Linked DNA regions of Homo sapiens: region 1 is linked to region 2. A link means that fine-mapping ties the variant in region 2 to the expression of a gene that starts in the linked region. Tissue or cell type: whole blood. Region 2 holds a variant in brackets; the other region holds the start of a gene. All regions are shown on one strand. Distances are from middle to middle.

The links. PIP is the estimated chance that this variant, and not a neighbour inherited with it, causes the effect.
Region 1: it holds the start of PPEF1, and the variant in region 2 is fine-mapped to the expression of PPEF1 in whole blood (TOPMed, PIP 0.99).

What each region holds. Positions count from the first base shown.
Region 1 is chrX:18,705,436-18,710,604 of GRCh38, reverse strand. It overlaps PPEF1 (protein phosphatase with EF-hand domain 1), which reads right to left and starts at 2,960. Exons shown (of 16, transcript NM_001377996.1): 1 at 2,779-2,960. The coding sequence starts at 2,824.
Region 2 is chrX:18,684,010-18,689,343 of GRCh38, reverse strand. PPEF1-AS1 (PPEF1 antisense RNA 1) reads left to right here. Exons shown (of 3, transcript NR_046642.1): 3 at 439-701. It also overlaps a transcript of PPEF1 not described here. Among named protein-coding and RNA genes, the nearest start is that of PPEF1-AS1, 6.0 kb to the left of the region's middle. The variant G/A (reference allele first, on the strand shown) is at 2,929.

The sequences.
Region 1 (5,169 bases), 21 kb before region 2:
TTTACCTGATGATTAGTGATGTTGAGCATTTTTTTCGTGTGTTTGTTAGCCATTTGTATGCCTTCTTTTGAAAAAATGTCTGTTCATGACCTTTGCCCACTTTTTAATGGAGTTATCTTTTTTTTCTTGTTGAGTTGTTACAAAACTCTTAAAGTAAGACGTGAGCAAAAATCTTTTTGGACTCGGGAATGGATTCTTAGATATGACACCAAAATCACAAGCAACCAAAGAAAAAATAAAGTGAACTTCATCAAAAGTAAAAACTTTTGTGCTTCAAAGAACACCATTAAGAAAGGATGAAGAGAATTCAACAAATGAGAGAAAATATTTGCAAGTCACATATTTGATAGGAAACTTGTATCTAGAATATATAAATTTATCTTACAACAATATAAAAATAAATAATTCAATTAAAAATGGGTAAATGATCTGAATAGACATTTCTCCAAAGCAGATATACAAATAGCCAATAAACACATGAAAAGATGCTCAATGTCATTAGTCACTACTGAAATACAAATGAAAACCATGGTGTGATACCACTTCATACCCACTAGGATGACTAAAATCAAAAGGACAGACAATAACAACTATCGCTGAAAATGTGGAGAAATTGAAACCTTTATACACTGCTGGTAGGAATGTAGAATGGTGCAGTCACTTGGGAAAACAGCTTGGAAATTTCTCAAAATGTTAAACATAAAGCTACCGTATGACCCAGCAATTCCACTTCTAGGTATATACCCAAGAGAACGGAAAACATATGTTCACAGCAGCATTGTTCATAACAGTCAAAAAGCTGAAACAGGTCGGGCACAGTGGCTCACGCCTGTAATCCTAGCGCTTTGGGAGGCCGAGGCGGGCAGATCACCTGAGGTCAGGAGTTCGAGACCAGCCTGGCCAACATGGTGAAACCCTGTCTCTACCAAAAATACAAAAATTAGCTAGGTGTGGTGGTGTGTGCCTGTAATCCCAGCTACTCCAGAGGCTGAGGCAGGAGAATCGCTTGAACCTGGGAGGCGGAGGTTGCAGCGAGCCGAGATCGCCCCACTGCACTCCAGCCTGGGTGACAGAGCAAGACTGTCTCAAAAAAAACAAAAAACAAAAAACAAAGCTGAAACAATCCAAATGTCTATCAATTGATGAATGGATAAATACAATGTGGCATATTCATACAATGAAATATTATTCCACAATAAAAAGGAATATAGTACTGATACATGCTACAACATGGACAAAGCCAGACACAAAAGGTCACATAATATATGACTCCATTTACATGAAATGTCCAGAATAGATAAATCCATAGAGACTGAATATAGATTTGTGGTTGCCAGGGGCTGAGAGGAGAAAGTGCTTAATGGATAAGGGGTTTTACTTTGGAGTGTTGGAAATGTCTCAGAAGTACATAGGGGTTGTGGTTGCACGACACTGTGAACATACCAACTGCTGCTGAGTTGTTCACTTGACAATGGCTAATTTTATGTTACGTGAATTTCACCTCAATAAATCACAGGTATTTGAAAGAAAAAGCAATCCAAAAATCTAAGCTAATATTTCCACTTACATGCAATGTTTTAAAAGTTGAAAAGTATTTCAAAAAGAGAGAGGATTTGTTTTTACAAGTTGGACTTGGCTTTTTTTTTTTTAACCTAGGAAATTTGGCTAAATTTAAAGAACTGTGAGTAATCCTAGATATAAAAAGATAATTTCTCTTTACTCTCTGCTAATAAACGTCTACTACAGCAGTAGAGTTCAGATGGAGCTTTTGAAAGATTTATTTCATGACATGCTTAAAGATTTGAAAGAGTCAGTACACCTCCTATGTCCCTTCCTACTTTCAGAGATGAGTTTCCTACATCATCAGCACAAGTCAGCTGGGTAGGAGAATAACATTTGATTCCCAAAGTAAAACATCCCACGCTAATTAGTATAGCACACTCTGCATCCTAAACCCTCCACCTTAAGCCTGAATAAACTTCCAAAGGCAAGACGTGGAATAGAAGTTGGGGGAATTACCTATAACCTAGACATCAAAGAAGTGGAGTTTAAGAGCAAATTACTCATATTAATTGTCCCAGCTTATTTACTTGTTTTTATTTTAATTTGCTTGTTGGAAACTCTATCCCTTAAATGCTCAAGTTTGTTTCAACTAGATGCCAATAGCCATGAGAAAGAACCTCAGTACAAAATAAACAAAGTGAATATTTAAGCTTCTAATTATATGGGGGTACAGAAAGGCATGCCATCTATTTAGAAACAATACACCTTTTTTTTGGAAACAGATGATCTAGCATTCTCCCAATTCTCCTAGATTATTTTTAAAACGTGATGCAAATCTCATGAAGTTCTGTGTTGAATAGATATAGAAATAATGTGATCATTGAGTTATAAAATCCAATAAAAATTCAATGATGCTACTAAATGTCACAAAAGTAGGGATATAGCTATTTATAAAAGTATTGAAGAAACACATATAAATTACACTGCCTTTCTTGTTCCCTGCCACTGAGTTTTAAATTGAGATTTTATATTGGTACATTATCGAATGAAATTAAATCAAACACAAAATATCTCTAAGACAATACTTTATGGTACTTCATAAATTCAAAGCTACATCTTCCTAAATGTAGTTTCCTATGCTACTCTAACGATGCCTTGTGCAAATCACACAGGGCAGCTTGAGCATCGTGGGAGTAAATGAGAAAGGAGAAGAGGGTGAGGGCAGCTCATTTTCCCCTTTTCATTCATAACCACAGGCACATTCCCAGTACTCACATGTGTCAGATCTCCTGGTTTTCGTTGAAGAACTGCTGCATCCCATGACTTCTATCTAAATCATATGTGTTCATGAATTCAACTTCTGATTTTAAGACAGAGTGTGAAAAGTGCCTCCCTTTAAGCTGCGAGGAACCACTCTTAGCCGATCCTCTTCAGTCATAGATTCTAATGAGGAATACACAGGAGGGAGGGAAGGAAACCGCCAGTTAACCACATGGTAGCTGAGGGGCTGCTCAGCAGGATTCATTTTACGCTTCTTCTGAATCGCTGTTCATCATGTGATGTGGAAAGTGATCAGACATAATCTAATCCTGGCTTATTTTCCAAAACACAGCAGCAGCTACAGAGCAGCTATAGGCTGCTTCTCTGCTAGACATAAATGAGTTTCTCCATGTCTAGGTCACATCCAGCTCTGTATAAAATAGAGCATTCAAAATGAAAAGAAAAATCGAAATATGAGAGTGTACGATTTTCTAATTTAAATATGGGGAATGGGATGTGGAGGAGCTGACATAATTAACTGTTTTGGTTTTCAGCTCAAAGTAATTCAACCTATCTAGGCTTTTAAAAACACAAATTGGAAGTTGACTATGAGACAAAAACAACATATTTAACAGCTATGCTGAAATTCAAAGTGAGTTCTTTGACAGTATTTCGCGGAATAAGTTGGGAACATTTGTTTTAAAAAAAAGGAGGCAGCCGGTCGCAGTGGCTCACGCCTGCAATCCCAGCACTTTGGGAGGCCGAGGCGGGCGGATTACGAGGTCAGGAGTTCGAGACCAGCCTGGCCAACATGGTGAAACCCCGTCTCTACTAAAAGTACAAAAATTAGCCAAGCATGGTGGCACATGTCTGTAATCCCAGCTACTCAGGAGGCTGAGGCAGCAGAATCGCTTGAACCCAGGAGGCGGAGGTTGCAGTGAGCTGAGATCGCACCACTGTACTCTAGCCTGGGCGACAAAGCGAGACTCCATCTCAAAAAAAAAAAAAAAAAAAAAAAAAAAAGGAGGTTTGAAACCTCCCCCCAAATTTAGGAATTGTAATCTGTGAGAGTGTCCTTTTATTTATTTTATTTTTTGAGACGGAGTCTCGCTCTATTACCCAGGCTGGAGTGCAGTGGTGTGATCACAGCTCACTGCAGCCTCAACCTCCCAGGCTCAGGTGATCCTCCCGCCTCAGCCTCCCTAGTAGCTGGGACTACAGGCATGCGCCACCACACCTGGCTAATTTTTTGTATTTTTAGTAGAGACGGGGTTTTGCTGTGTTGGCCAGGATGGTCTCGAACTCCTGACCTCAGGTGATCCACCTGCCTCGGCCTCCCAAAGTGCTGGGATGACAGGCGTGAGCCACCGTGCCTGGCCAAGAGTGCCCTTTTAAACAAGCTCTCTGGGCACTGCTGAGGCCCCTCTGGAGTCTAACTTTGTGTTCTATAGTCCTTCTCATGAGCTCCCTGACTCCCATAATCACTTCACGGGAGTTTTCAACAAAATTCCTTTCCATAGTATACTGTCACGTCACTTTTTAGGGTGATGTTTCCTTTATTTTGTGATGCTCCAAACCAACCTGATCTAATATATTTGCATTCCTTTTTTTTTTTTTTTTTTTTCAGACAGGGTCTCACTCTGTCACCCAGGATGGAGTGTAGTGGCACAATCACGGCTCGCTGCAGCCTTAACCTCCCAAGCATGTGCCGTGACACCCGGCTAATTTTATTTTTTTGTAGAGACAGGGTCTCCCTATGTTGCCGAGGCTGGTCTCAAACTCCTGGGCTCAAGTGATCCTCCGACCTTGTCCTCCCAAAGTGCTGGGATCACAGGTGTGAGCCATCTTGCCCAGCCCTATTTGCATTTCTTGACAGGCACAAAGTCAGCAAACAACTGACATATCTATCTTTCCATTGGTACTACACCAAAAGCTTCAAAATTTCAACTCGACTGAAGAAAGGGAAAACTAAAATAAGCAAAATATTTGAACTATGGCCATGTTTTGAAAATAACAATAAGCTTAGTAAACAGATTTTCTGACCAGAGGTGAACCTGATTATTTTATGTATTGAATGAATTAGCCTTCCTAAACTTTGGGTTACTTCCAAATTTTTATTTATTTTTTGAGACAAGGTCTCGCTCTGTCACCCAGGCTGGAGTGCAGTGGCGCAACCATGACTCACTGCAGCCTCCACCTCCCGGGCTCAAGTGATTCTCCTACCTCAGCCTCCTGAGCAGCTGGAACTACAGGCATGCGCCACCATGCCCAGCTAATTTTTGTACTTTTTTGTAGACATGGGGTCTCACCATGTTGCCCAAGTTGGTCTCAAACTCCTGGCCTCAAGCAACGTGCCCACCTCAGCCTCCCAAAGTGCTGGGATGACAGGCATCAGCCACCGTGCTT
Region 2 (5,334 bases):
CACTCGGCTAATTTTTTATTTTTTACAGAGATGGCGTTTCACCATCTTGCCCAGGCTGGTCTCAAATTCTTGGGCTCCCAAAGCACTGGAATTACAGGCGTGAGCCACCACACCTGGCCTCATTCATAGCTTTTGGAGTGTAAACCAAAAGAAAAATTTTAATCCCCGCCCAACCATTGGAATGGACTTCTTCCTAGGCCAGGGCACTTTAAAATTTAACCTGAAAGACTGCTTCAGGCCATGACGAGAAGCAGAGGTCCAACATGCCTCATTATACCTCTCCGGTATTAATATAAACACAGACCTTAGGACGGATAAGAAACATTTACAATCTGTCCTCTCTGAAGCCTGCTACCTGAAGGCTTCATCTATCTGCACAATAAGAACTTTGGTCTCCACAGTCCCTTAACCCAGACATCTCCTTTCTACTGATCCCAGGTCTTTGGATAAACTCAACCAACTGTCAACTAGAACATTTTTCAATCTACCTATAACCCGGAAGCCACGCCCCTCCTCCCCCTTGCTTCGAGTTGTCCTGCCTTTCTGAACTGAACCAATGTATTTCTTAAATGTATTTGATTGAATTCTCATGTCTCCCTAAAATGTATTAATTCTACAATTAATTTTTATGGTTTACTCAGTAGTAAGACCAAAACAAAAGAATGTTGTGATATGTAAATAAAGCAATGCCAAAAGCTAAAGATTTCAAAGACTTGGAAAGAACGAGAGAAATAATAATCATAAGCAAACTGACGTGTCAGTAATGTAGTGAAACTTCTCTAATTTATCCCAGTGAAGTGGGCTGTCAATTCTTACTCAGTGACAAGTTCAATTTATGAAATAGTTTTAAAGAAAAGTAACAAATTAATCTGATGTAACTAATGAGAAGCAATGTCTACATGTTTAATAACTCTTTAACAGGTCAATAAGAGCTATTTGTAACTAACACTTTCATTTTCTGACGGAAGCTCTGGATTTTATATGATGTGAGAGAAAAACCACCTCCCTTTCCAGGCCTCCATTACTTACTTCTGTCACAGTTCCCACTGATGTGGCACATTCCTCCTGGTGGCCTATGTGAAAACAAGTAGGCGAGAGAGCCAAGATTTCTCTGGTTTGGTTTTCGTGAGAAGGTTATGAAGTTAATATAGGGCCTAAAGTGAAATATTGCCATTTAAAAAAACTAGAAATGAACTCCTCTGTGCAGAGAAGAACAGGAAGATTAAGAAAGGGAAACTGGAGTAAGTTTTTATAATTTTGAGGAAATATCAGCTCTGCCACTTTCAACCTGGGGATCTTAGGCAACTTACATAACTCCTCTAAACCTCAGTTTCCTCATTTTAAAAATGAGAATAGGCCGGGCGCTGTAGCTCACACCTGTAATCCCAGCTCTTTGGGAGGCCAAGGCAGGTGGATCACTTGAGGTCTGAAGTTCGAGACCAGCCTGGACAACATGGTAAAGCCCCGTCTCTACTAAAAATACAAAAATTAGCCAGGCATGGTGGTGTGCGCCTATAGTCCCGGCTACTCCGGAGGCTGAGGCACGAGAATCACTTGAACCTGGGAGGTGGAGGTTGCAGTGAGCTGAGATCGTGCCACTGCACTCCAGCCTGGGCAACAGAGTGAGACTCTGTCTCAAAAAAAAAAAAAAAAAAAAAGAAGAATATTTAAAGAGAATAATTTAAGTGGCAATCTCTTTGTAAACTATAAAGTGCTAAACAAGTATTAGCTACCATTTCCAGGAGAGGCCTGCATTTCCCAAGTGGATATACATCCTAGAGAAGAAATGTGGTCTGGCCAGTGGGTCAGGATGTGTCTAGGGACATAATAGAATTAGATTCTAGAGTCAGCTTGCTTGGGTTCAAGTTCTTGCTCAACCACTTAACAGCTCTGTGTGAGCTTGGGCAAATTACATAACCTCTCTGTGCCTATTGCTTCAACTATAAAACGAGGCTACAGATAGCACCAATCACACTGGGTTGACGTAACGAATGAATGGGTTAACACACATTGTAGCAGCCACTGATCATTACTGTCCATTCTCCCCCTGTTCCTTACTAATAAAACCCCCGTTTTGTTCTAGGTGGCAGTGTTCGGGCAACAAAACTTGATTTGCTAGGCTCCCTTGCAACTATGGGTAGTCATGTGACACAGTTCTAGCCCTTGAGATACAAGCAGAAATCTATGGGCTGAGGCTTCCAGAAAAGCTATTTTCCTGATAAAAAGGAAAAGACTCAGCTGGCATAAGCCTCTTCTCTTTTGTCCTTCCCCCTATTCTGCCTGGAACCAGGACACAATGCCTGGAGGAGGAGCAGCCATCTCATGCACACTAGGAAGAAAGCCTCACACTGAGAATAGCGAAACCATGATGCAGGATGGATGCAGGATGGAGGGACGAGCTTGAGACCTGGATGACAATGTGACACTGTATATCTCCTGGCTTCGTATCATGTGGGACGAAAACCAAGCGCTCTGTGTTAAGCCCCTGGTGTTCTATTTACCTTATTTCAGGCAGCCAAACACATTCTCTAACCAATACAACTATAAAGCAGCTTGGTGCCTGGCTCATAGTATTCAATAAATGTTAGCTATTATTATTATCATTAGGCCAGCATTCTGTTCCCTAACCAGGTGGCTAGCAAATAGTCCCCTAACTTCCTTGTAATAGAATCACAATTTTCCTTTTCGAAATCACCCCCGCTTCCTGTTTTTTAGCCAAGTGATTTGCATGGGACTGACGCAGCCCCCAACTCTAAGCGCGGGCCCTGGTTGACTTAAGCCAATTATCCGAGCCCACTCCCCAAGCAACAGCAACTTTTCAGGAACAAGCACATAATTCAGGCCTAAGACAGCATATCCTCTTCTCCTGGCAAAAAGGAGTGTTTGGGGTGGGCGTATAGCTAAAGAAAGATATTATGAGTGAATCTC[G/A]GGGTACCTGGAGAGAGTGCTGGGACAGACTCACTTATCTCCCCCTAGTGTGGTGCTCTGAGCAAGGTTTCACCATGAGAAGAGCCAGTCCAGGGGGTGAAATTGATACATGGGGAAGGGCCAACCAAAAGGCAGGGAAATGGAGCCGGAGCCCTCCATCCTTAGTCTCTGGATCAAATCTTACCTTCGGAAGTTTCAAACCAGATTCGTTTGAAACTGGTTTTGCTCAGTTTGGGTCGGATCTTCTGCCACAGGCAACTACAAGATTCTTTCTGATACTGTTAGAAGAAAAAAATAATAATTTTACTGTAAGGACTACATGCCTACAGGGGAACTTTCCAAATCCTGGTGTAGTGCTTCTATTCAGTAAAATCTATAATCCAGCACCATATAAGTTCACATCACAATCACCTTTTTAAAAGAAAAAATGACAATAAGATTCACAATCAATTTTCAGTTGTGTGAATTCATTCAAATTTCTCTTCTGAAAGAAAAAAAAAGTCAGCCAGTTGAAAGTGTTTTGTTTTTGTTCTTTTTGTAAACACGTCCAGGAGAGGTCCATTAAGAATAAATTTGTATCCAGGCTTTAGAAGAACGCTGAGCCCAGAAGCAGACGCTAGAAATGTATGACTAATATTGAAATAATATTCACAGACAGTTGTCATGGCAGCCTACTCCGTCTGCACAAAATAGAACCCACTGCTTTTTTTTCTTTTTTTTTTTTTTTTTTTGAGATGGAGTCTCGCTCTTTCACCCAGGCTGGAGTGCAGTGGCGAGATCTCGGCTCACTGCAAGCCCCGCCTCCCGGGTTCACGCCATCCTCCTGCCTCAGCCCCTCAAGTAGCTGGGACTACAGGCACCCGCCACCGCGGCCGGCTAATTTTTTGTATTTTTAGTAGAGATGGGGTTTCACCGTGTTAGCCAGGATGGTCTCGATCTCCTGACCTCGTGATCCACCCTCCTCGGCCTCCCAAAGTGCTGGGATTACAGGCGTGAGCCACCGTGCCTGGCAGAACCCACTGCATCTTAACAGGATTTAGCAGAGGAAAACTGCTAGCATGCAGATAGCCTCTAAATGAATTAAACAACCTACTAATTGGTTTTGCTTTTATTACTGTAGATGGCCTTAGGACTCTACCCAAATTGTATCCAAAAGATCCCCAATTCTTGAAATCATTAGTAAAAATACACAATATGACTGGAGTTTAACACCTGCACCACACTTGAAATCTTTCCCTCAGACTGTGCAGAAAGCTTAGAGGCAAGTCTTATTGCGTGCCCAGTTGAATCCATGTGGAAACAAATCAGGCAGTAAGTGTTGTGGGAGTCGAGGGAGTAACCCATTCCATTTCCATCACCAATTAGCACTGGCTGCTATCAGGTGTTGCCTTTTAAATGGGACTCTAGAGGAGTGGGCAGTAGTAGTCAAATTGTTCTGTGTTCAGTTACCTAGTCACAGGGGAGTGACTTTAGAAACTAGGCACATCTCTGCCGGGTGTGGTGGCTCAGGCCTGTAATCCCAGCACTTTGGGAGGCCAAGGCAGGCAGATCACCTGATGTCAGGAGTTCAAGATCAGCCTGGGCAGCATGGTGAAAATCCATCCCTACTAATAATACAAAAATCAGCAAGGCGTGGTGGCGGATACCTGGAATCCCAGCTACTTGGGAAGCTGAGGCAGGAGAATCGCTTGAACCCGGGAGGTGGAGGTTGCAGTGAGCCAAGATTGTGCCACTGCACTCCAGCCTGGGCGACAGAGTGAGACTCTGCCTCAAATTAAAAAAAAAAAAAAAAGAGAGAGAGAAAAAGATACTAGACACATCCCAAGATAGGTTAAGTAAGAGAGGGGGAGACAAAACATTCTAAGCTCATCTGTTTCTCTCTCGAGTGGCCATCTCTAGGAAATGTAATCTCACTGAAAGTGATCGTGGGTGATTGTGAAGGTTATAGATAGCTGGTCTGGAGAGGTATACCATGTGAGGCCTTCTTTCCTATTAGACAGGTTTTTGCTTATCACCCTGCCTATCCCTCATCAGCCTTCTCTTTTGTCAAGTTTCTTCTTTAAGAGAAAGGAGACCGGGCCCAAATTCAGATCTAGTAACATCCTACATTAGGAAAACCACATCAAGCCACTATCTTCCATTAACATACTGGAACAAATGAGTCCTTTGGGTTAACTCATGTTCTTCAGACTTCTTGAGATGAGGCCATGTCATATACTTTTTTTAAAAAAGCTCCCGCACTACCCAACACTGTGTTCCCAGACATATTGCAGGCATGTGATAATGAACAACTTCCATCAAGGGACTGGAACACAGGGCAAGCCCTTGGTAGCTGGGGGACAAATTAAAGACATTGTCAAAATGGTACAGGAGAGAGCTACGGGTGAGCTATGTGCAAAGGTTCAA